Linked DNA regions of Homo sapiens. The protein of the gene in region 7 purifies or fractionates together with the protein of the main gene of each other region. This does not show direct contact. Each region holds a gene or a part of one and is shown on either strand. Other genes may lie near its edges.

Region 1 (2,381 bases), on a different chromosome or scaffold from region 7:
GTTGTTGACTATGGCAGTCCCGTGCCTACCATGATACCTGAAATGAGTCACTCAAACAGTGACATTTTGAAGAGGAATGAAGGAAGGAGTGGAGGAGCGAGTGTGTGAACACATGCCATGGTAGGGATGTTGGGCTGGTACAAATAAAAACGAAGCCATACATTTCAAAGGTGTGCCTCCAAGGTGAGAACTCAAAATATTTATAACTGAAGAGTTGTGTGGAAGATGTAAAAAATCCTGATGTTTAAGAAAAGACAAAAATAACACAAGTGTGAACTGAGATGCTGCAGCACATTTTAGGAACCTTGATGTAATCAGTTTAGCAAAAGCACATTGCTAGAGCCACAATTAAGAACACTGGTGTTTAGAGTAATTGGAATATGGTGAAAATAACTTAATGAAATAATGTTTCTTCAAGCCTATCAAAAATCTGCTTCTGTTTCATAGTCCAAAGTTAAACTTTTGTGCAATACAGGACAAAGAGAAACCACCACCATTAGTGCCTGCACCACAGCAATTTATTAGCGTAACTTTTTCTTTTTTTCTTTAAAGATTTCATAACAACTGAAGTATGTACAAAGTCTTACAGCATTTACACCATAAAAAGTTTCCTATTAGCTCATGAAGTCTAAGGTAGTGCTGCTGAGAACTTCAGATGTGGCAAAGGCAATGAGGCAAACCACTTGTAGGTTTCCCTCTCTGCTGCCACATCATGGTGTCAGCTGAGTGACAGCTAACTGTACCACCTGGAAGACAGGTTATTGGGAAAAAAGGGGACAAGTTGATAGGCAGCACTAGAGACCATGGGGTGGAAAAGCTACATAGCATTGTATTTCTACAGTTTCCTAGAGCTGTAACAAAGATCCACAGCCTGAGAGAATAACATATGCAAGACAACAGAATCACGCTGCTCAGATATGGTTCAGCTACCAAGTGTGTTCACTTTTGAATGGAAGGCTCTACTGATATGGCTGGTATTTGACTTCTGTTCATGTCTTCAGATAGCTCAAATCTGCACAAGCCTCACTCCCTTCCCCCAAATCAAATAACAACAAAGGGAGAGAGAAAGAAATAGCATGAAATTAGTAGTTCTCGACCAAAAAAAAAAAAAAAAAAAACAAAAAACCACAACTTTTTTTTTTTTTAAAGGCATTCAGTATTTGTTTTAGGGTGGTCATTCTGTCGAAAGATAATATTAGGAATTTCTGAATTATCCCAATCAGAACAACATCAACAAAACCCCCAAACACCCAACCTCCTAGATTTAACCATCTTTCTTTGTATCTGATCGTCTTTCCTTGGGGTCAGTATTACATAGAACCACCAACGTTTACACACTGAATCGGACACAAAACGTAGCATTGTTACCCCAATGACTGCTTCACTAAGTGGCAAGAGAATTTCAACATGTAAACGATTAACGTCAGGCTCACCACTTTATTCCACAGAAAACCCAGCCTGGTTCTATGTTCGGTCAGTCATTATCTGTTTGGTAGCAGATCCCATTTACTGTCCCACTGGAATAGTCTCACATGTAGGCAAAGTGGCTTTTTATTTCAAAAAGATTCTGCTCTCAACTTAAAAGCCAGTTGATAAAACTTTTAATTAAGACACAATAGCGCGGGATATAAAAACACAAGAACCACATAAATATCGAAGAAGTTGTATACCATTTTCATGTAAACAGTTTTGCTTACGAGCAAAGCCCTAATTAGATTCTGGCCTGAAACTTTTGGCAGATGACGCGTGTTCAGCCAGGCTCTGTAGCGATGGTGACGTGGAAGCCAGGTCAGTCCCCATGTTGACAAGCATGCAACTTGAAAACATTGCACAACAAGCAACACAAAGAGTGGAGAAGCTCACAACACTTCAAGGAGACCTCACAACCTTCACAACTGCGTAAGCACAGAGACCCACGCTCCCTCCTTTCCACGCACTGTCTTACACATGGGAGACCTTCTGTGACTCTCTAGCTTGTTTGATGCTATATAACCACTTGATGATTCTAGCATTTCTTTCGATGGCAGAAATGCCATACGGCACGCGGTCATTGGCACTGTCATCATTTCTAAGGTCACTGTTACTGTCCTGAGACTGTTCACAGTCTGAGCTGATCATGCTTGCGCTGCGGAAGTTGAGGGATATTATGTCAGAATTAGCCCTTGCAAAGTTTTCCATTCCCAGGTTTTCCAGCTCTTCCGGGTCCAGTCCACAGTAGTTGAAGAACCTCTCCACGTCCGCGTCCACTCGGAAATATCTGTCACTCAAGTCTGACTTAGACCGCTGGAGGGAGGGTCTTCGGCTGACTCCACAAGCTGGTTCCACAGGGTCGGCCTCGGGGGACTTCATGGAGGCGATGGCTGCGATTTTGGGCTTGGGAG
Region 2 (3,500 bases), on a different chromosome or scaffold from region 7:
CTCTGCATTCCGAGGTGCAACCTGCAGCTTAGTTAGTAGTGAATTAATTTGCATGGTCATTTGCTATTCTGCATTAATGTCAGGTCTCCTCAATAACACCGATGCTTTTATAGAAGCAAGCATGTCTTCTCTTTCACACATGGTCCTGTCTCCCACAGCACCTGGCTCAGTGTGGGCGTCAATGACTTGTACGGATTATGACAAATCCATGTGCATTATTATTTGGTTCCATCTGGCACGTCTATGCAATCGTCTGATGTACTGCTGAACAAAAGAGGTGGTAGAATTTGCTCTCCAGCGTCTAGACAACGTTCACATGTATTTAACAGGGAATGAAATGGGATTTTGATATTTCTAACAATTTTATGGACAGAATAAAGGTAGGAAATGGGTTGATTTTGGTATTTTGGCCCCCCCAGAAAAGCTATATGAAAATTCAGTACTGTATTGAACACCCTTCCTTGTCAGTGTCTGAAAAGTGTACACGGAGGAGGCATGATTCTTACATATGAGAGGCATATTTTCGTAGGGGATCATGGAAAAACTATATCCAAACACCACAAATCGATACAATACAATCCTAGATCCAACTCTTTGAGAGCTGCAGTGTCTTACTCAACTTGGTGGCCCCCAGCACTCAGCACTGCAGGGACTCAGGAACTACTGGTGGGTTGGCATAGACCACAGTTCTGAATGATCCTTCCAGAAGTGTAGGACTACTTGGTCAAGAGAACGACCATTCCAGGGAGAACATCTGTAATCACCAATTACTGTCTGATGCCTTTATTGAGGAATGTAGGTAGCTAAGCAGTTTTTCACAGCTCCCTGTCTTCACAAAAACAATAGCACAGGAGCAGCATGAAATTACTTTCTATGCTCTGTCACCAAAAAACTACAAGGTCATTTACCCAATAAAACAAACCTTTTATTTGAGAACTGCCTATCTTAACAAGCTAAACACTTCAATGCAAATGTGAGCTTTATTAGAAGTTTCCACCATGTTATATTTCAGGGACCTATCATTGGCTTGGAAGCCATTTAAAATGACCACCTACACTGTGTACCCCTACAGGCCAGACAGGCTCTTCACCCTCTGGAGACTTCCCTTGAGTGATGGCTGAGACTTCCAGGGTAAATTGTATACAGGCATATTTTCAGTTAGGACATCTCAGGGGAAAAAAAGAAGTTAAATTTCAGAATGTGAGTGGTTATTAGGGCTGGGCAGGAATAGCATTCGGTCTTGGTTCCTCTCTTTCACATATCTGATAGGGTATGCTGGGATGGAATGCCCGCTGGGAGGAATGCATTTCAGATAGCTTGACTCACTAGGCTGGCCTTTCTCACCTTGCTGCCAAGCTTGTGTCTGCAAAGCTCATCTTTCTATGAAGAAAAATCAGAGGCTTAGATCAGAATGGAACTTATTCTCAGGACAGCCCAGGAACACCATAAAAATTTCGGCAAAAATATGTATTTTTATCCACAGCCACTCAAAAACAACTTTTAAAAACACCCTCAAAACAACTCCTTAACAGGGACAGCACTGCTACACACTTGTGACATTAAAAAAAGTAGAAAAAAGTAGAACATATGGTTGCTTCATGCCATCAGATTGACAAAAGAGCTGCACTCCGCAGTTAGGTGTTCTTTTGGGCAGTGTGCCTGGGTGATGTGGGGGTGGGGGTGATGCTGGACCTGGCCAGCTCTGGTCTCCGTGCTGCACCTCAGTGCTTGCTCTGCACACCCTCCTGCGTGCACAGTCTCAACTGGTCTTTCTTCTGTATGTCCTCACCTGAGTATATCCGTGTTGAAATGGAAGTTTCTAGAGGGGAGAACTGAGACCTTCATTAATCAAATCTTTGTATATGCACCAAGGACTCACAAAGAATTATCATCTCTTCTGGTTTGTTATATTTATTTCTGTGTTACTTTCCTCCTTTACCATCCCTCTGTGGACCTAGCTGGTTTTGCTCATAGAAGTTAAAAGCTCTTAGATTCTCTTTGAGTAATGACAACGGCTGGCATTCAGCTAACAGGCCACGGCATCCTGAATCCAAGTTCATCTCTGGGCCTGTCCCCTAAAAGAGTTAAGTGCAGAAACAGCCTCTCAGAAAGCTCTGGGACTGCCTGACCTTAGCAAAGGACAATCTGTCTGCTCCATAATAAAAAGGACCCATTCTCCCGGGATACCTTTGATCCCAACTATAAACAGATCAGGGTGGGAAAGGTCCTCTGGTCATGGGAAAGCCCAGCCTGCTGTTGCCTTTGGTGAGTTAATGAACTACCATATATTTGTGATTCAGGAAGCTGCTTTATAAATATGCTCTACCTGCAACTGTTCAAGGAGGTCAAGGTTCTGTTTGCGTAAGCTGCTGTTGGTTTTCTCTAATTTATCCATTCTTTGGTTGTCACTGAGAGGAGAGGAATCGATAAGTTCTTCTTGAAGGACGTGGTACTCAACTTCATAAGCTTGTAACTGTTTAGCGATGTCCATTTCAAATACCTGTTATAGAAAGAAAAGTCATCACGTACTAAAACTGAGAAAAACCCCACAAGTACAGGCAGGCGTCTGCAATCACGACAATGCGCACCTGTGAAGCGTCTCCTCTACGCTTAGCTCTACACTTGGTACTAGAAGTAATAAATAAGAAAAACTACGCACTGAGAAGGTAATAATTTTACTTGGGACAAAAGGATATAAGAAACATCTAGAAATAATTCCAAGGTAACATTAAGTACAGGTTTTTGATACTCACCTTCCAAAAGCCAAAAAAAAAAAAAAAACCTCTCATTTTTAAAGACATAAAAATTTATTTTTAGTTCTTATTTCACTTCTTTTCTCTGAAAATTCTGTTAGGTTAGATACATCAACTATGGGTTAAAAGGAGAAAAGAAACAAAAGAATCATAGCCTGTTTGCAGAGTCACCAAGTCAAAGTTTAATTATAGTTCAGTTGGGTTTTCAGAGTTACAAGAACAGCTAAGTAATGGGACTGTTTACTAAAAAACTCTCCTTTGCACACAAATATGCAGAAATGAGCCAAAACCCACATGTCACCCACACAGATGAGTGAATACGAAACGATGCCTGAGTTGTCTTCTTTCCCACAATAGTAATGGTGACGAAAACACCACACGTGTGAAAAACAACTCCTAAGTGCCTAAGTGACTCAAGCCGTCCGTGTCTGTACTTTCTCTTGGTAAGGAAGGCAGGGCGGAAAGCAGAATCAGAAGACAGCTGCTGCTGCTGCTGCCCAAGGCATTTCCTTTCTTTCCAGTTGTTTCTATGAGAGAACCCCAGGGGCTGGGGCCTCTCAGCACAGCAGTGAAGCCCTAACGTTTATCTGATGGATCTGAGAATGCAGTCAAGCTGGGACCATCTTAAAAGAAAAAAAAAAAAAACCCTGCTAGATCAGAACACACATTCAGAAAGTGAAGTCAGGCTTTAAAAGGGCAGAAACTGCCTCTCTATTGCATTGCCTTAAGCAACTCCAATATTGTTAA
Region 3 (3,500 bases), on a different chromosome or scaffold from region 7:
GAAGGTCCTCATCCCTGGGACCGAAGTCGCCCCACCCTGGGCCCCTCACCGAGGCCGAGGCGCCTCCACTCACCTGGTACTGCATGGCCTGCTTCCCGACATCCATGTCCAGGCCTGCAGCCTGCGAGCCGTTCTCACCCAGCCCATTGTGCACGGCCGTCTTCTTCCCCCGGAGCTCCTTCACCACCCTGACCTTCAGCCGACTCCGGAGAACAACAGCTGCGTTCCCTGAGGTCCAGCAGGAGTCAGAGGGCATGCATCAGGGAAGTCAGTGGGGTCAGGGGCCCCACCCCAGGGAGGCCAGTGGGAGTCAGAGGGCTCTTTCTTCTCCCAAGTTGACACACTTCTGTGCCTTTTTCTTTTTATTTTGAGATGGAGTCTCACTCTGTCACCCAGGCTGGAATGCAGTGGTGTGATCTTGGCTCACTGCAACCTCTGCCTCCCAGGTTCAAGTGATTCTCCTGCCTCAGCCTCCCAAGTAGCTGGAACTACGGGTGCGCACCACCACGCCCAGCTAATTTTTGTATTTTTAGTAGAGACGGGGTTTCACCGTGTTGGCCAGGATGGTCTCATCTCTTGACCTCGTGATCCGCCCGCCTCGACCTCCCACAGTGCTGGGATGACAGGCGTGAGCCACCGCGCCCGGCCGACACTTCTGTGCCTTCTGAGAGTGAGAATCAGCTCACTTCTGCCCAACACACATGGCAGCTTCAACCTGTGATCTGCTGAAACTTCTCAGTGTCAGTAAAAGGTTTGAACCACTCAAGATTTAGAAATCCCTGAATCTTGAAACCTTTAAATGTTGCTCCATGCATCATTAAATGAAAATAAACCCCCCGCAAGCAAGCGAGACAGCAGCGCCATGATCAGAGCTCCTGTGGGCTCCAGAACATTCCAACTCACCCTCTATCACCTGAGTAACTTGGGACTGAAAGTTCTCAAAGCTGAATGGGGTCAGGAAGCCCAGGGAGCCCAGGTGGAAGGCCATGACCGGAGGGACGCTGCCCTGTGAGCCGACGGAGAGGTCACTCAGTGCCCACGCCGTGCACCCCCGCACCACCCAGCTTTCCAGCAGCACCTCAGGAGGGACCCAGCTCTGTGGGGACAGCACCCCGACCCTCTGCAGGAGGGACTGGCCATGTGGACAAGCGGAGGGGGACGTCGCAGGCCAGGGTGGGCCGGGCCACCAGGGCCAAGGTTGGTGTGGGGAGCTGGTGAGGAACAAAGGTGGCAGGGCTGAGCGGCCCCCTGGGCACGGAGGGCTGGGGGAGCTGGCGAGGGCGGGTGGGAGGCAGCCTTGGGGTCGGAGCCTCGCGCCCCACAGGTGCTAATGGGGAGATGGGGAGAAAAGCAGGGCGGGCTGCGGGCATTTCCGGTGTCACCAACATGCAGTGGGCCAAGGGCAGAGCCAGGGTCCCCCACACAGCGTGGCCCTACAGCCCCAGGGGAGAGCTGTGCTGCTGAGAAACCAGGAAGAGGAGCTCAAGGGAGGCCCAGAGGGGATGGGCCAGTAGGCGAGGTCGTTTCCCAGGACCCACCACCCTGCGCCACTCCCTGCTGTCCCAGGCGGGCGCTGGCCACCCCCAGCCGTAGCACTGTGTCCACACTGCCCCTGGCCCCACCGTCGCACCCCACCGGGCTGCCACCATGGGCCTCAGTGCTGGCCGCTCTAGGTGACTGCTCTCGTATAAAGGGGTGAAAAGCAATGGAAGCCATGCTTGTGAGCCCCTCGTTACGCAGCACCTAGACTAGAACCTGGTGTGGGTCTGGAAATGTCAGCGCTTCACCTGGAAAAGCGAGGAAGCGTACAGCAGCGTCCCGTCTCCCCCCAGGCAGATGATGAAGTCTATCTGATTGGAAATGTCATCATAATCTAGGAAACACAAAGCAAAACCAAGAAGAGGCTGTCACACAGTGGCCCCTCTGTGGCGCAGTGCGCAGACACCAATGACAAGGGCAACAGTGCCAGAAGCTTCCAATGGGGCGGGGAACTGTGCTGGAGAAACCAAGGACAGAGCTGCTGACAGCCCACCTTCTCGAAAGGTACAGAATTTCTTCTTCACTGCCCCAAAGCTTTCATCGCTGGCGATGGCAGGGTCTTCTAGCACTTTCTTTTCCACATACACGATCATGTTCTCCTGGAAGCAAAGTGCCAACCTGCTCATTCCACCTGCAGACCCCACCCTCCTGCAGGGAGGTTCCCGACTCACGGGCGCTGTGGTCAGAGACCTGGCATCGTGGCCTGCATGCCCGCCCCCCCACGCTCACGCTGAAACTTCATCACCAACGCGCCAGGAGGAAGCAGGACCTTTAAGAGATGACTGGGCGGAGGGGGCTCCCTCTCAGGAATTGACTAAGGCTGTTATTTCAGGAGTGGCTTTCCTGGGCGCCGCAACCCCCACGCCTGCTCTTCTGAAGAGAAGACACAGCAGGAAGGCCCACGTCAGATGTGGCCCCTTGATCTCGGACTTCCCGGCCTCCAGGGCCACGAGCCCACCAGCTCATTGTTGGTCACCCAGTCTGGTGCTTGCCATGGCGGCACACACAAACCCAGACACCCGGCAGATCCCCACTCAGTCCCCAGTTCCAGACAAGCAGCCGTTGCCCAGCACTTGAGGTGGTTCCCATGGTCTCACGGGGCGGTGATGTGGATGGAGGCCCCCCCAACTCCATGTGCACCCCAGGCCCCCTTCCCCCCTGCCCCGCGTGCCTCCATGAGGTGCGTGCAGAGCTCCTTGAACGGCTGCAGTAGGCTGGCATCTCTCATCTTCTTGATGACAAGGACGCTCTTTGGGGACTTGTTCCACGTCAGCCGCTGGCTCGCGGGGTCCTGAATGTGCCTTTAGGGGAGGAGAAAAGAGTTCACACCAGCTGCGATCTCCCTCTTGCGGAAAAGGTGTATGACTTAGAAAATAAAAAAAAAAATCTTTAAAAAGGTGTTTTCACCTCCCAGGGAAACGTGCTCGGTGGCCACGGGCTCACAGGGCCTAGGGTCGCGCCACAGAGACAGGGTCAGGGGTCAGTAGGGTCCGGAGTGACCACCTCTCACCTGCTTGGCCCATCACACGCAGGCTCAGGCCCACAACCCCCACCCGGGCACCACGCTGACCCAAGTGCACGCACCACAGCCCTTCCCAGCCCCCGGCCACTTGCCTGCCTGGCTCCTCAGTGACGCTGGTGGGGCAGAAATGACCACGAAAGCCCATGGCTGGGCCACTCTTTGCTTGATGCCCTCCTCAGGCCCCCACGAAAACCCAAACCAGTTGACATGGTGACTCTGTCCCTAGGATCCTCTGCACACAGTTTCTGGCCCCACGGGAGCCCAGGACCCCTCAAGGACCCGCTTCCCCCCCTGCACACAGCTCACTACCTCCCTGCATGAACGGACTTTAACCTCACTCACTCTCACAGTAAAAATCACAGGTTTAAAAGTCCGTGGCAGCCCTGACACAGCCACCCGCGCTTTGCTGGCTCTGACCCCGACCACTGTGCCCGGTGTT
Region 4 (2,804 bases), on a different chromosome or scaffold from region 7:
TAATGGAACGAAGATTACTCTGCTTGAGTGCACTGACCTTTATCAACCATTTCATCAGAATTTCTGGAGCATGAATCTGTTAGACATCCTCTGCAACTGTTCGTAGGAAGAAGGATCATTCCTTTCTGGCTCAAGTCCAAAGGATCTTTCTCAAGCAACCAGAGATGGGGAAAGCAAAATCAAATCCACAGACAGTTGAAATCTAGTTAGGGAATAGTTAGAGGAGACAATAAAAATAACAGTCATGCTGCATAAGTCTCTAGAGGATACTGTTTTTCTTCCCGTGGCTGCCTGAAAAAACAATTACATTCTCAATATTCCTCCAACTAAGGCTTGGATTCAGTCCTATATAACATACCAATTGCTGGTTTGAGGCTCTTCTTTCAGGCCAAGTAGATATCCAGGAAAGAACGGTTCGGCACACATACACAAACCCATGTTCATAAAAAAACAACATGCTTTTCAAATTAGTACCAAGATTATAAAGACTGGGCAACATCTTACTATTTAAGAAAAAATATTTATTTGCAAGAAATGGAAATACAAAAGCATAACAATTTCAATTTATTTTTTTTTCCCAAACTAAGTACAAGTGTCCTACAAAGCTTTTTTTTTTTTTTGGTATTTACTTAGCTATGATAAAGAATAAAAAGTCATTTAAAAAACGCGATAGGACAGATAACAGACTCACAACGTATTTAGATTTAAACACTGCTGGTCTACGTAACCTGTTACAAAAGAGAGCAAAACCTAACTGTCAGCATAGACATTAAAGCTCACCGTTGATTATAGCTCAGGGCCTGCTCAGCATTGTTTAAAAAGGGTCACTCACAGTTTTGTCAAAGAGTGCTGGTGTTCTCTATGAACTCATAAACTGTTTTATCTGAAAAGGTGATTTTCTAAGTAGTGTAAGCCATGGGTACATGGTGCAAAAAGTTCATGTTCTCACTCAGCTGGTGAGCGAAGGATGGGAGCAGAGAACAGAGCTAAAACCCCTGGTTTTCCTTTCCCCAGATGTAAAGCCTGCTAGCTGGAACTCACAGAAGATTGGAACAAAAAGATAGGAGATGGACACCTGGGGGACTGCTCCAGCACGAAGGGAAGCGATGAGCATCACACAGCAGGGCCATTGCAGGGGACAGGTGCTGTAATTCCTGCCCAGAGAACTTGAAAGCTTACAGTGTGCTCACAGGAAGGAATCGGCTCAGCTAGTCCAGAAATTGCTGCATTTCCCATATTACTTAGTTCTTTATTCATCCTGTGGTAAAGAGTCACCCTTGTTTTCCGTATCTATAAAACTGAAAGACTTAAAATTTACTTAGCACAGCACGCAACACCCTAGTAAATGCTCAAGAAATATTATTTCCCTTCCTTCTAGAAACCAAGGCTAAATAAAACATTCCTGAATTTTATGTTGTCCAAAATAACAAAACAAAACAACACCTAGTTTTTTCCTGTGTTAAGTGCTGACCCTTTGACCACAAAGGCATGGAACATTAATCTTCAAATGAGCCAGGTTCCTTTGCCCTGAGAAATGTTCCGCTATGAGGATTTATAATACCTTTAATCCTGGCTGGTTGTTTTTTTGATGTGATTGCACTCCTGCAAACTGGGATTTTCCTAATGGACGTAACCCTATTTCTTTTCTCCTGATGTGCAAATCTGATAGTGGCTCACTTTTAGGAAACCACTTTTGAGCCTTCAGAAAAAAATTTTTCCCCACACCCAACTCAATCTAATAATAAAAGAATATATACAAAATCTCCCAGTGACGAGGGATTCCTCAGTCATCCTGGATTTACCTATAAGGCACATTTAAGGCACAAATGAGCATGTAAGGGAGGAATGTGCACGTGTGTGTGTGTGTGTGTGTGTGTGTGTGTGTGTGTGTCAGAGAGAGAAGAAGGGAGAGAGAAGTATAAGCATTTGGGTCTTTTGAATAACTATTATTAATGTTTCCTCAATCCCTTCTATTCCCCAATATTCCCTAGGGCCTCAGGCAACACTCTTCCTTATGAAACTGAAAAGTCTTAGGAGTAACTGAATGAGTGAGTGAATGAACGAAACATCTAAGTCTTGTCTCTGGATCCTTCACAGCCCTCACGTCACCACCACCTACTCTCTCCTGTAACTGCCCTCCCAGCGGGGCCTATCCTAGCATGTGTCTATGGATAGTCTCACCTGAAGGTGGCCAAATAAAATGACTCTCAAGAGGGCACTACCTGCCCATGGCTTCACAGGTCCAGCCAGCCCAGCAAGCAGAAGTGCTGGTGTCTTTAACCCAGGTTTCTTAAAGACTGGCTTCAATAGAACCAACTGTAGTGACTTGGGGCAGAGGAAGGGGAGGATGAAGGTCTTCTAGTGCATCTCTGCCCTCTCCGTGTTGGCAAGGTTGGCATGAATGGGCCATTATTCAACTGGGGGTGGGATGTCTCCATTTCTGGACTGTGCTCAAATTCACACCTTGTATGACATGTGGGCAGAGGAGCTGGCCTGGAGAGGCCTCTAATTCTGCCTCTACGCTTTTGCTGGGTCTGAGGACATGGGAGGGAGGAGCCATAAAATGCTGGAGAACAATTTTAAAAAACACTTATGAAAAAATGCTGGACACTTGACTCACTGCCAGAACAAAGAAGAGCCAATTCAACATCCCAACTTTACGGGCACGTAAGATTCACAAGCTGAACCAAGAGATTTAGGAAGAAAAAAAAAAACATGGTAATTATAAGGGGTCTGTGAATAAGTTAAACTAAAAGCTGCTTTCACAATCTACAAATTAGGCCTCCAAATCAAAATCATTTATA
Region 5 (3,500 bases), on a different chromosome or scaffold from region 7:
GCTTTATGAATGACATAACATATGGTACTACTAAGAACTTACTATGTAAGTATGTTGCATTACATAATTGGCCATGGGCAACTCTGAGTAAATAGATACCAGAGCTCCTCATCAGATACTTACAGATCTTGACTCTGTTTCATTCGGTGAAAGTCCTTCAGGATACCCATCATGTCTGCAAAGCTGCTGGCCTTGGACAAAGAGACGCAGTCATCCTCTTCAGACGAACTGCAGGCAGCTTTGTGTTCTGGTTTGCAACATTCAGGGCTGGCAGAACAAAGCAGGGGGACTGATGGAAGCTCAGGGACCTCCACCTCTGTCTCCTCGGTGATGTCACTAATGACAAAGGAAGTTGTAGAGTGGAATGAGGATCCAAAACAAGGTAAGGGAGAAGAGACATTTGAACTTCCTGGAGATAAGAAATCTGGCGTTAATGAAGCCGAAGCTGAAAGAGAAAACAATAGGCATGGGTGGACATTGGGGCTAGAACACAGTAGCAATATCTTCTCCCCACAGCCCTGCCTACTGAACATTCATTTCCTGGGCTGACACCATGACAATCTGGGAGAGCCAGGATGGTATCTGTAGCCAGTGGAGGGTCATTCCACTATGCTTCTCACTCGGGGGCTCAGAAAGCTGTAGAAGCACTGGGCTTTTCCAGTGTTCCAGGAAGGCAGGAAAACCCAGCCCCATAATGGCCTTGGCATTTAAAAGCTCCCATTCCACAATAGGCTGTGGAGTGACAGCCCTGTCATAGGCCAAAGCAGCAGAGATAAGAGCTAAGGCCTGAATTTGTCCTTTTCTCTAACTAGACTAGTGCTTTTGACTATGCTCCTTTGAAATCTTGCTATCTGTGAACTAGAAGACATGTTCTGAGCAAAACCAGAATGGTAACAGACCTCCCAACCTCCCCAAATTTCAGTGGAGAGAATTTCCTCAGTTTTTACATTTCTAAAAATACTTTAAAAACACTAAATACACTAAAAACTATGTTTCTAAAAAAGATGTTACTTCTGCTTGTCTCTTGGATGACAAAAAAGTAGCCAAGAAATAACAAAGTTTCAGTACAATTCTTCATAAAACTTCCATGTGAAGAAATTAAATACATGAAGATTTCAAAGAACACCATGATTTTCATGTGTCCTACCAAATGATAAATTTCAGAGCTATGACTCTGAGTCAATGCAGAGTGAAAAAATGAGGATGGGAGGAATATGAAGATAAGCCCTGAGCATCTTGGGAGCGATCCACCTGTTGGCTGTCCATGCCTCTGGTTAAGGCAGGCTTCCCATCCATTTCCAGTGGTTCTGCCTTAACTGTAGACAGAAAGCTGGAGGGGTGGGTTACAGGGCTTGTTTGCATAATAGACCACTGTTTTTTTTTTTTCTTTTTTTGAGACGGAGTCTCACTCTGTCGCCCATGCTGGAGTGCAGTGGTGCAACTTCAGCTCATTGCAACCTCCACCTCTGCCTCCACCTCCACCTTCCAGGTTCAAGGCACATGCTGCGATGCCCAGCTAATTTTTGTATTTTTTATAGAGACAGGGTTTCACCATGTTGGCCAGGCTGGTCTCGAACTCCTGACCTCAGGTGATCCACCCACCTCAGCCTTCCAAAGTGTTGGGATTACAGGCGTAAGCCACAGTGCCCGACCACTGTATTTTAAGGCCAAGATCTCCAACTTTATGAAATTCTCCTTCCACCAAAAAAGTCCACCAATTTGAGATAAGAAAACATAACATAATGTCATGAAACTCCCCACTTTGAAGGGTGGGGCATGGGGACAATGTCACTAGCAGTATAAGAACTGAAGTGGTAAAGCCACTTGTGATTCCTGGTAGAAACAACAAGGCAAGGGAAGATAGGTGCTTAAAAAGGGTAAGTCTCAGTGGTGGTGGGGGGAATGTTTACTTCTTGTATTGAAAAGGAAAGCAGGGCGCGGTGGCTCATGGTTGTAATCCTAGCATTTTGGGAGGCTGAGGCAAGTGGATTGCTTGAGCTCAGGAGTTTGAGACCAGCCTGGGCAATGGCGAAACCCTATCTCTACTAAAAATACAAAAAATTAGCTGGGCATGGTGGCATGCGCCTATAATCCCAGCTACTCGGGAGGCAGAGGCACGAGAACTGCTTGAACCCAGGAGGTGGAGGTTGCAGTGAGCCAAGATCGTGCCACCGCACTCCAACCTGGGTGACAGAATGAGACTCTTGTTTCAACCGCGGGCACAGTGGCTCATGCCTATAATCTTAGCACTTTGGAAGGCCGAGCTGGGTGGATTGCTTGAGGCCAGGAGTTTGAGACCAGCCTGATTAATGTGGCAAAACCCCGTCTCTACTAAAAATAAAAAAATTAGCCAGGTGTGGTGGTGCACACCCGTAATTCCAGCTACTCAGGAGGCTGAGGCACGAGAATCGCTTGAGCCTGGGAGGCAGAGGTTGCAGTGAGCCAAGATTGCGCCACTGCACTCCAGCCTGGGCAACAGAGCAAGAACCAGGACCCTGTCTCCAAAAAAAGGAAAACTGGCTGGGCTCGGTGGCTCACACCTATAATCCCAGCACTTTGAGAGGCTGAGGTGGGTGGGTCATCTGAGGTCAGGAATACAAGACCAGCCTGGCCAACATGGTGGAACTCTGTCTCTACTAAAAATATAAAAATTAGCCAGGCCTGGTGGCACACCCCTGTAGTCCCAGCTACTCAGGAGGCTGAGGCAGGAGAATCGCTTGCACCTGGGAGGCAGAGTGCAGTGAACTAAGATCGTGCCACTGCACTTCCAGCCTGGGCGACAGAGCAAGACTCACTCAGAGGAGAAAAAAAAAAAGCTACTGTGGGCTTATGTAAGATGTGATCTTAAAGACACTTAGAAGAGGGTATCAGTTTGGGGGCTAAGGGAGGGACTCTGCCTGGGGTCACAGGTTAATATTTTGTTCTTAACCAAACCATTCAGCCCAAAATGGCTGGTAGAAACCATCTAAGAGGCACTACTGGCTAGCCAGGCTTCAGGACAACCCCAGGGCCCGGAACCTAAGTACCTGCAAACCAAGGATTACCACTTTCTTTACCCCTATCCTGCCCAAGAGCCAGGGGAAAGGAACAGCCTGTTACGTTCTGGCCCTGGCACAGGGGCTCCTACCTGCATCAGCTGCCACTATCTTTGCAATCTGGCTGCGCAAGTGGCTCAGCTCGTCCTGCAGCTCAGTAGTGCGGCTTAGGGCTGGCAGAGCTGGCTTCTTCAGGGCCAGAAGCCTCTCCTCGGACCCACGCAGGTTGGGAACAGAGGCATTGCGCTGCATGACAATCAGAGGGCTGGGTTTCCAGGTGTGCCTCAGGGGGCGCGTATCACTCCTGGACCAGGGAAAACCAAGTAGATCAGTTAGAGACAGCAGGCCACTGTGCTCCTAAGGTTCCTTCCCCCACTTCTGTGAGAGTAGTATAGTAAGGTTCTGCTCCTCTCTGAGCCCACAGTTCTCATTCCTCTCTCCTTGCTGCCTGCCACCTCTTCTGGG
Region 6 (4,058 bases), on a different chromosome or scaffold from region 7:
TTGCTCTTTCATGTTTAGAGAGAGAAACTGAGTAAAGAGGAAAAATAGAATGATGTTTATATTCTCTACAAGTGTGCTTTCTAATGTGCTAATGTGTTCACGGCTCACAAAATAACAGTTCCTGACACTTGAGAAATACATTTCTTTTCATGACATTTTCTTCCTCACATTATTGCTCCCTGTCGTTAGCCTCAAACCTTACATTCTGTAGCTCAAGTACTTTAACTGGAGAGAGGCTTTAATCCCCTCTCTCCAGTTAGGGAGCCTCCTAAGGAGTCTCCTTGTCTTCCAGGTCTCCATTGCCAATCATTTCACAGAAGGGCAGAGAATCTTCCAAAGCAAAGCTGTTGCTGCCTTATAACATTTACCCCTTCTTTCTTGAAAACAGGCCCCAGGCTACCTTTCCAGCTTGCTTTTTCCCCACCCGAGTCCCTCACGCCCACTGTAACTAATCTGGGCTTTTCCTCCTCTGGGCTTTGGCTCACGCCGGTCCCTATATCTGGAATCCTTTCCTTTTTCATCTTTGGCTGCCTAGATTCTGTCCATTCTTTTTTGTTTTTTTTCTGAGGCACAGTCTCACTCTGTGGCCCAGGCTGGAGTGCAGTGGCACGATCACGGCTCACTGCAGCCTTGACCTCCTGAATTTGAGCGATCCTCCTACCTCAGTCCCTGAGTAGCTGGGATTACAGGTGTGAGCTACTGTGACTAGCTAATTAAATTTTTCTTTTTTTGTGGAGACAAGGTCTCGCTATGTTGCCCAGGCTGGTCTCTAACTCTTGTGATCAAACAATCTTCCCTCCTTGGCCTCCCAAAGTGCTAGGATTACAGGTGTGAGCCACTCTACTGGGCCTATTCTTTAAGGCCCATCTGAAACGTAATCTCCCTTGCCTTTTCTGATTCTCCAACCAGATATCCCTTCCTTGTCCAACACTGGGTATTAGAGTGGGTGTAACTTTTACAAGAGTTGACATTTGGACCTGTACTGCAGATATCTGTGCACCCAAACTGTCAATTCCCATGATCAACTACGTGTTACTGACCTTTGTGTTATAGGTAGCACCTAGAACAGACATTCATATTCATTGGCAATTATGAAAAACAAAAGTCTAAAAGTGCTTCACAATTTTCTGTCAGCTGAAGAACTGGTCAAAGAAATCCAGAGGCTTTTTTTTTTTTTTTTGTAAAGTACAGCTTCTTAATAGGGCACTTGATTTTCTAGGTGTGGACACAACAGTTGATAGACATCTACTAGGTCAAGAAAGGTATGCCTGAATTAGATAAATGACAGACTCAAAAGAGAGGCCAGGAAAAGGCTGAAAAACAATCTGAAGGCATCTGTGGTATCCTTTTGTTTATATCTTGATTTTTAGTTTCGTACAGGGGAACACAGGAAGCTCTGAGGCTTTAAAACTAGAAACTTTGCGATTTAATCAAATGAAAAATTTTGAATGCTGTGCTGCAAATCTGATTAAATAGGGCTAGTAATTCACTTCCAAACAAAATAAACCCCAAACTCAGAAAATCTAGCTCCTTTTAACAAAAAGTCTGGTAATGTTATTTTTCCTAAATTCTAAAGCTTATCAGAGAAGCCTGCCCCCTCACATAAACATTTTTTCATATACCTTTATGAAACCTTCTGAGATAACACTACTACAGAGGTGAATAATGAATTCATAGGCCCTAGCTGTAACTACGTCATTGTTTACTTGGTGACTTTTTTTTTAATCGGGGAGAGGGGTAAAATGGAGATGAGAGAAAATCAGTTTAAACTGTATTCAAATACATTTACACGATTAACACCACCAACTCAAGGAATTTCTTTTTCTTACAGACCTGTAGCACTTGTTGGTAGGAGAACAATGAAATGAACCCATAATTTGAACAAAGGCAACAGGCACCTGCAGCCTTTCAATCACTTAGCAAATATTTCCGCCGAGACAGGGCCGAATTCGGGGATCTGGGCGAGCAGCCGGTGTCACCTTTCTCGGTAAGCTGCAAATCTTGGGAAAACTAGGACCCTTCCCAGGGATCCTGGGCTGGGAGCGGTCTCCGGTTTTTAGACAAATCTCTCCTCCTACCACACGTGACCGAATGGCAATCAGCCGCCAAGAGAGACACCGCAACGCATCAGCCGCGGGATACAAAGGCTCGGCACTGCCGTCGCATCCTCGGGAGGATCGCGGAGCCTCCCGCGCTCGGCGTCTGCGGAGCCTGCGCAGGGAGCAGCTGCGAGGCGCGCCGCTCCCGGGCCCGCAGGGCGGTGCCGCGCTGCGCGGGGAGCAGGAGCGGGGAGCGCGCGCCGCCTGCCCTGAGCGCCTGCCCACCCAGCGCCGCCGGAGCAGGGGCGCCGCGCCGCACCGCACGCAGCCGAGCAGCGCCACAGCCGCCGCCGCCGTCGCAGCCGCAGTCGCCGCAGCTAGGCCCTCGGCCGTCGCAGGGAGCTCCGCAGCGACGTGGACCAAGGTGAGGAAGCCGAGGGCTCCCCCAGACCCTCGGCAGGCCCGAGGCCGGGCTACCCCGTCCCCGCCCAGGCCCAGGCCTTCCCTTTCCTCTCGGCTCCTTCCCCTTCCCACAGCTCCCCTGGGCCTCGCGCCGGCTGCAGGGCGCAGTGAGAGGCACTTACACCACGGCTCTGGAGATCATCCAGGACACCATCTTCACGGGGGCTTGGGCCCCACGTCCGGGGCGGGTGGGCGCAGGGCGCTGCGGACCAGGCCGCCAACGGCAGGCCGCGCGCTTCGCCGGCTCCTCGCGCTCCCCGGGGCCGCGCTGGCGCCCTCAGGAGCCGGGCCCGGTGTGTGCGCGCGGCGGCCTGGGCTGCGCAGAGGTCGGTCCCCCGCCCGTCCCCGCCCGCCCCCGCCCGCCGGCCCGGCAGCCTAGTCCGGACAGCACCCCGCCCCTGCGCTCCGCTGATAGGCGGTGGCGGCGGCGCGTTGGCCCGGGCCAGGGCTGGGGCCAGGCGGCCGGGCTCCAGGGCTGGGCTGGCGGGATCCTAGCCCGCGCTGGACGGCCTCGCTGCCGCGGCCTTGGCCCCTGCGCTCTAACCAACCTTACCCTCCTTAGCTCTTTGGGACGCCCACACTCGCGGCGAGAGTGGGGCAGGAGGCTGAGGAAGGGTACTGGAGGGTAGGGATTGGCAGTGCCTGTGTGAAAAGTGAGATATTCGCAGGAACTCGGTGTCCAATAAAACTCTCGACCAGGCCCTGGTTTTGGAGAGCCAAGACTTTGAGGTGTGCCTGGCCACATCCGGTATCCTCAGTGTTTACGGAGGCCCAGCACCAAAGGCGTCCTTATATTACCACATTTTAAAGGAATCGTCGAGAGGTTCTTGCACAGGCCTCCGTGTGTGCCACGAGTCTCGTGGTGCAATGCAGGGAGGGACAGAGGAGGATTTCATGTTTGCAGTAGTGGGTGCAGTGATACCACTGTTCTGGGCCTCTTAGGGCACCTTTTCATCAGAGCATCTGCAAAGACTGTTTACAGACACGAATCTCCATTATTTCCCTGAGGCCTGCCAGATGTTCAAAGTAAAGGCTGGGTCTAGGATTCCTGACCTGTCTTAAGATTTACAACTATATTACAGCTGTAAGATTTACAACTGTATTTTTTGGAGGTTGGGTTACTGCTTACACCTTGCTGTTCTTGCAAATATCATTTCAAGGGCAGACTTTTAAAACTGTTTTTTTTTTTTTTTTGTGACAGTACCAAATTGAGAAAATGATGTTAAAGTTTAGATATTTTTATTTTTTCCAGTTAAGACGATAGTAAAAGATAATTCTAGTATTCAGATGGTGCGAAGAATAAAAGATGAAATGTAGGCTTGGAGCCTTTAATTAAAGTCCTAGAAAATATGATGGCTTTTGTGACCATACTGTAATTTTGTCTTCTTGTTCCTCAGTTTCCCTGTGATAAAAAGGGGGTAATAATACTGTAGTCTGTCTCTTGCCTTTCAAGGGTGATATGAGGCACTGCTAAATAATATGTTTAGGAAATACTCTGACTTGCATGGAAGACAATCAAAGGACACAACAGATTATCCTAAATTATTTTCAGTTCTC
Region 7 (3,500 bases):
ACGTTACAGGGAGAGCTAATAAAATTTTTAAAAATGATATACCCCGGTTTTACAGAAAAACCTCATTAGAATGAAAAAAAAAAGCTATGACATTAAATTCTTTAGATTATCAAATAAAACTGGTTTATCAACTGCTATGCAGAAATATCAATGCAGGGTACTTAAAAATGTTATTTTTCTGCATTTACCCCCCTGCCCCATCAACTTAAAAACTACCAGTTCGAATAGTAAAGGAAATGGCAGATGAGCAAAGATGGTTGCCTATCTGGTTTTAATCATCGTATTTGCGATGCCCAAATAACTAAAGCTTTAATACAACCTTAATTCTATAAGCAACCTGGAACGGGGGAAAATTAAATCTCTCACAGCTATTCACATTACCCAAATAGGAAGATTTTAACTTTACTTTCACAAATGTAAATGCTACACCCGGTTACTATCAAAGTACAGGGCATACCATTGAGACTGACTCGAAGCAAAATACAGTACAAATTTATTGACTCCAATCATTCTTAGTCAACATTTAAGCAAACTGTAGACAATGGAATTGAATACAAATAAGCAATGGATTAACATTAGATAGAAATCCTATTTTACCATGAATTTTCAGTTCGAAAAAGCTTATTCCTAAGTAAAATGGAAAAATGACTTACTCTGCTAAGGCATATGACAAAATACACAGAATTATAAAACCATTCGTTTTTCTTTTAACCATAAGCATATATTCAATGGAAAACTTGAAATAGCCTTGGACTAATGTTCTGAAAACTAGTATTAACTGAGTATAACTGTGTGAAAAATCTGGACAGCATTAACAAATGAAAGAGCACTGAATTCTGTTATTTTAAAGATTTACAGTAAAATACTTTGGTTCCCAAAAGACTGTCTCTAAAAGGAATTTTTAAAAACACCTGACATTGTAACTCATTTTTTCTCCTCCAGAATCTAAACACCAATTTTGTCTTCTCCCCAGTCACATGGGAATGCCACAAGCTGGAGTACCCGCTGAGATACACTGAAAGAGCATATTAAAAATTACAAAAAATTAAACTTCTTAAAGTGCTAAAACCACAAAAAGCCATAAATGAAAACCTATTTTTTAAAACTTAAAGTTTAGTAGTCAGTGTTAAAGAACACTTTTAAAGAGTACGTGTCAGCATTATTTAAATCAATAATGCATTTCACAATTATTGCAGAAACATCACTGAGACATCGTAAATTGTCAAACTGACTTGTAATCCAGTTAGATACAATTTATACAGAAATCTATTTGGAATTATACCTAATTACTTTTTACTAAGAAACTTCAAATAATTTTACTTCCTGAAGTTCCAGATTACAGTTGTATACACACATGCATGCATGTGTGTACAAACCCAATTTGAGACAACAAAGGCCAACTTTAGATCTGTTAATTCTTCCATCTCTCCCTCACCCTGATCAGAGAGTTGGCCTTGTAGGTGCATCCACACCGCACCTCCGTGAACAGACACATTTTATTCCTGTTTCACAGCAGCTACTCTCATTAGCACCAATGGGACTACATATGGATTCAAACGGTCACTCATTAAGTGCTGGGGCACATTTTTACAGGCAAGGCTATAAACGTTCCATTCCAAACCAGAAAACCAAGAACATCACACATCTCCCCACAAATGCAAAGAACATCACTGTTGAATTGTTAGTTGTATATTCTGGTAAAATTATAAATGCATACTAACTAGTTTTAAAGGTGAATATTCTACAAATCTTCAAATATTACTGTTAAAATGCACAATATTTGTTACCTCCATTGCTTACTTTGAGTGATAAAAACATGTTTTATGTTACTCCTTCCTTCTCCCACATAAACGATTCAGTATCAAGTTCTCAGATTAACAAAGAATATATTAAAACATTTTACATTCTTTCCACAACTGCATAAAAAAGCAGGCATCCTGCATACTTACATGGAATAAAGAGCTTTCTACATTTTCAAAATTAATTACAATCCTAAAATATATTTACATGAATATCTTCACTAGCTAATGAGTTGCAACAATTTAAGACCAACTTGTTTTACACCAAGTATTTGCCTACTGGCTGAGATAAACATTCTTAAAAAACTTTACTGAATAAAGTAATTAACATATCTTTCATTATTTTACTTCTTAACATTTAAAATAGTTACATGAGTGGAAGCATATTTTTTTTGACCACCAAAATAAACTCTTTCAGCCTAATGCTTTTAAAGTACAGTATAAAAAGTAATAGAAAAACCAGAACGGCATTATAAATGTTTTTGGTTCAAAATTTTATTTGAAATCTTATATTCCTTGCTTAGACAAAAATGTGAAGACAAAACACCAGTCATTTTTAAAATCTAACAGATATGCAGAACCTATGTTTAGATCAAAAATATTTTTTTTTTTTACTGATTAACAATATTATTTTTAAAAAATCTTCGAAAATGTAGCATAAAGGTTTAGGTCCTGGGATACTGAATTTATAATGCCAAGATACTCTGTATCATGGAATTATCACCGATAGATACTCTAATGGCCATGTAGGTGATGATTACTCAGGGAAACTGTCTTCTTTTGAAGTGACAGCTACCAAGATGGACAGAGTAAGAAATACCACATTATACGCGGAATGAATTCAATGTACAATAATCCATCCTGATGTTTCATGTAAACCCATATGCTTTAGTTTTATCCTTAAAATGCATAGATTTCTTTAAGAAAACAAAGATGGCAAGAATCAATAACTGCAATTTATTTTCCCTTCTCCATCAAATTTAAGAAAGAATAGGAAGTTAACTACTAAAATATTGTGGAATTTTGGAGTTTTTTCAAGTGAAAGAATACAAGGCAAAATTTCATATATAATATCCATAATGTACAAAGTCAATCAGTATTTTATAAAAATGTCTGGTTCAATAAAAAAAATGAGAATATCTTTCCTACCACTGGTATGGAATGTTGGCAATAAGATTGATGGGTACAGAGTTATTTTCTGCTAGAGCACAAATCTAAAATTATTTCTTAATGACAGTAGTTGGCTTTTAAAAAAAATTTGAAAGAATACCTCGTAACACAAACTAGAGTCTAAATTGGTATTACTTTCTTAAAAGGATTTTGTAGTTTCGTTTTTTTAATACATCTAACTCCCACCCCCACAAGTAAAAGTTTTCCCTTTTGAAACACATTGAACTTTGGATATCCTACTGAAAGGCTTTCAATTACAAATTATACATAGTATTCTTTGAAAAGCCCAAAACCCATGGAGCAAAATAAGTAGCTAAAACTAATTTTGGACCACTGATAGTGCTCTAATACCTATTTTTGAAATATTAAGCAATGATGTAGAGAATGGCCTTGCCCATGATTTTAACCATCAGACCCCCAACAAATTCTAACAGAAATTGTCACAAGAGAGAGGCAGGAAAATGTATATGTCGTATATATTGTTCTTGGAAAGCATGTTGAAACTGCAGTGAGGTGTTTCTCCTCTGCTCT

The links.
Region 1: the proteins of ZBTB21 (region 7) and FAM110B purify together in Homo sapiens (affinity purification with mass spectrometry, with the first as the bait; one large-scale study listed by BioGRID). This does not show direct contact.
Region 2: the proteins of ZBTB21 (region 7) and TBC1D1 purify together in Homo sapiens (affinity purification with mass spectrometry, with the first as the bait; one large-scale study listed by BioGRID). This does not show direct contact.
Region 3: the proteins of ZBTB21 (region 7) and NADK purify together in Homo sapiens (affinity purification with mass spectrometry, with the first as the bait; one large-scale study listed by BioGRID). This does not show direct contact.
Region 4: the proteins of ZBTB21 (region 7) and CREB3L2 purify together in Homo sapiens (co-immunoprecipitation; one large-scale study listed by IntAct). This does not show direct contact.
Region 5: the proteins of ZBTB21 (region 7) and MTFR1L purify together in Homo sapiens (affinity purification with mass spectrometry, with the first as the bait; one large-scale study listed by BioGRID). This does not show direct contact.
Region 6: the proteins of ZBTB21 (region 7) and REEP3 purify together in Homo sapiens (affinity purification with mass spectrometry, with the first as the bait; one large-scale study listed by BioGRID). This does not show direct contact.

The regions. Positions count from the first base shown.
Region 1 is NC_000008.11:58,146,904-58,149,284, reverse strand, and holds the end of FAM110B (protein FAM110B), read right to left. Parts: coding exon 1,942-2,381; 3' UTR 501-1,941; downstream 1-500. UniProt on the Homo sapiens protein: May be involved in tumor progression.
Region 2 is NC_000004.12:38,132,084-38,135,583, reverse strand, and holds part of TBC1D1 (TBC1 domain family member 1), read right to left. Parts: intron 2,501-3,500; coding exon 2,327-2,500; intron 1-2,326. UniProt on the Homo sapiens protein: May act as a GTPase-activating protein for Rab family protein(s). May play a role in the cell cycle and differentiation of various tissues.
Region 3 is NC_000001.11:1,754,471-1,757,970, forward strand, and holds part of NADK (NAD kinase), read right to left. Parts: intron 2,841-3,500; coding exon 2,711-2,840; coding exon of another isoform or gene 2,637-2,710; intron 2,413-2,636; exon of another isoform or gene 2,309-2,412; intron 2,188-2,308; coding exon of another isoform or gene 2,139-2,187; coding exon 2,033-2,138; intron 1,874-2,032; coding exon 1,788-1,873; intron 1,007-1,787; coding exon 904-1,006; intron 229-903; coding exon 74-228; intron 1-73.
Region 4 is NC_000007.14:137,874,479-137,877,282, forward strand, and holds the end of CREB3L2 (cyclic AMP-responsive element-binding protein 3-like protein 2), read right to left. Parts: 3' UTR 501-2,804; downstream 1-500. UniProt on the Homo sapiens protein: Transcription factor involved in unfolded protein response (UPR).
Region 5 is NC_000001.11:25,826,454-25,829,953, reverse strand, and holds part of MTFR1L (mitochondrial fission regulator 1-like), read right to left. Parts: intron 3,340-3,500; coding exon 3,128-3,339; intron 446-3,127; coding exon 124-445; intron 1-123. UniProt on the Homo sapiens protein: Mitochondrial protein required for adaptation of miochondrial dynamics to metabolic changes. Regulates mitochondrial morphology at steady state and mediates AMPK-dependent stress-induced mitochondrial fragmentation via the control of OPA1 levels.
Region 6 is NC_000010.11:63,520,143-63,524,200, reverse strand, and holds the start of REEP3 (receptor expression-enhancing protein 3), read right to left. Parts: upstream 2,801-4,058; 5' UTR 2,656-2,800; coding exon 2,624-2,655; intron 2,464-2,623; exon of another isoform or gene 2,311-2,463; intron 1-2,310. UniProt on the Homo sapiens protein: Microtubule-binding protein required to ensure proper cell division and nuclear envelope reassembly by sequestering the endoplasmic reticulum away from chromosomes during mitosis.
Region 7 is NC_000021.9:41,986,361-41,989,860, forward strand, and holds the end of ZBTB21 (zinc finger and BTB domain-containing protein 21), read right to left. Parts: 3' UTR 471-3,500; downstream 1-470. UniProt on the Homo sapiens protein: Acts as a transcription repressor.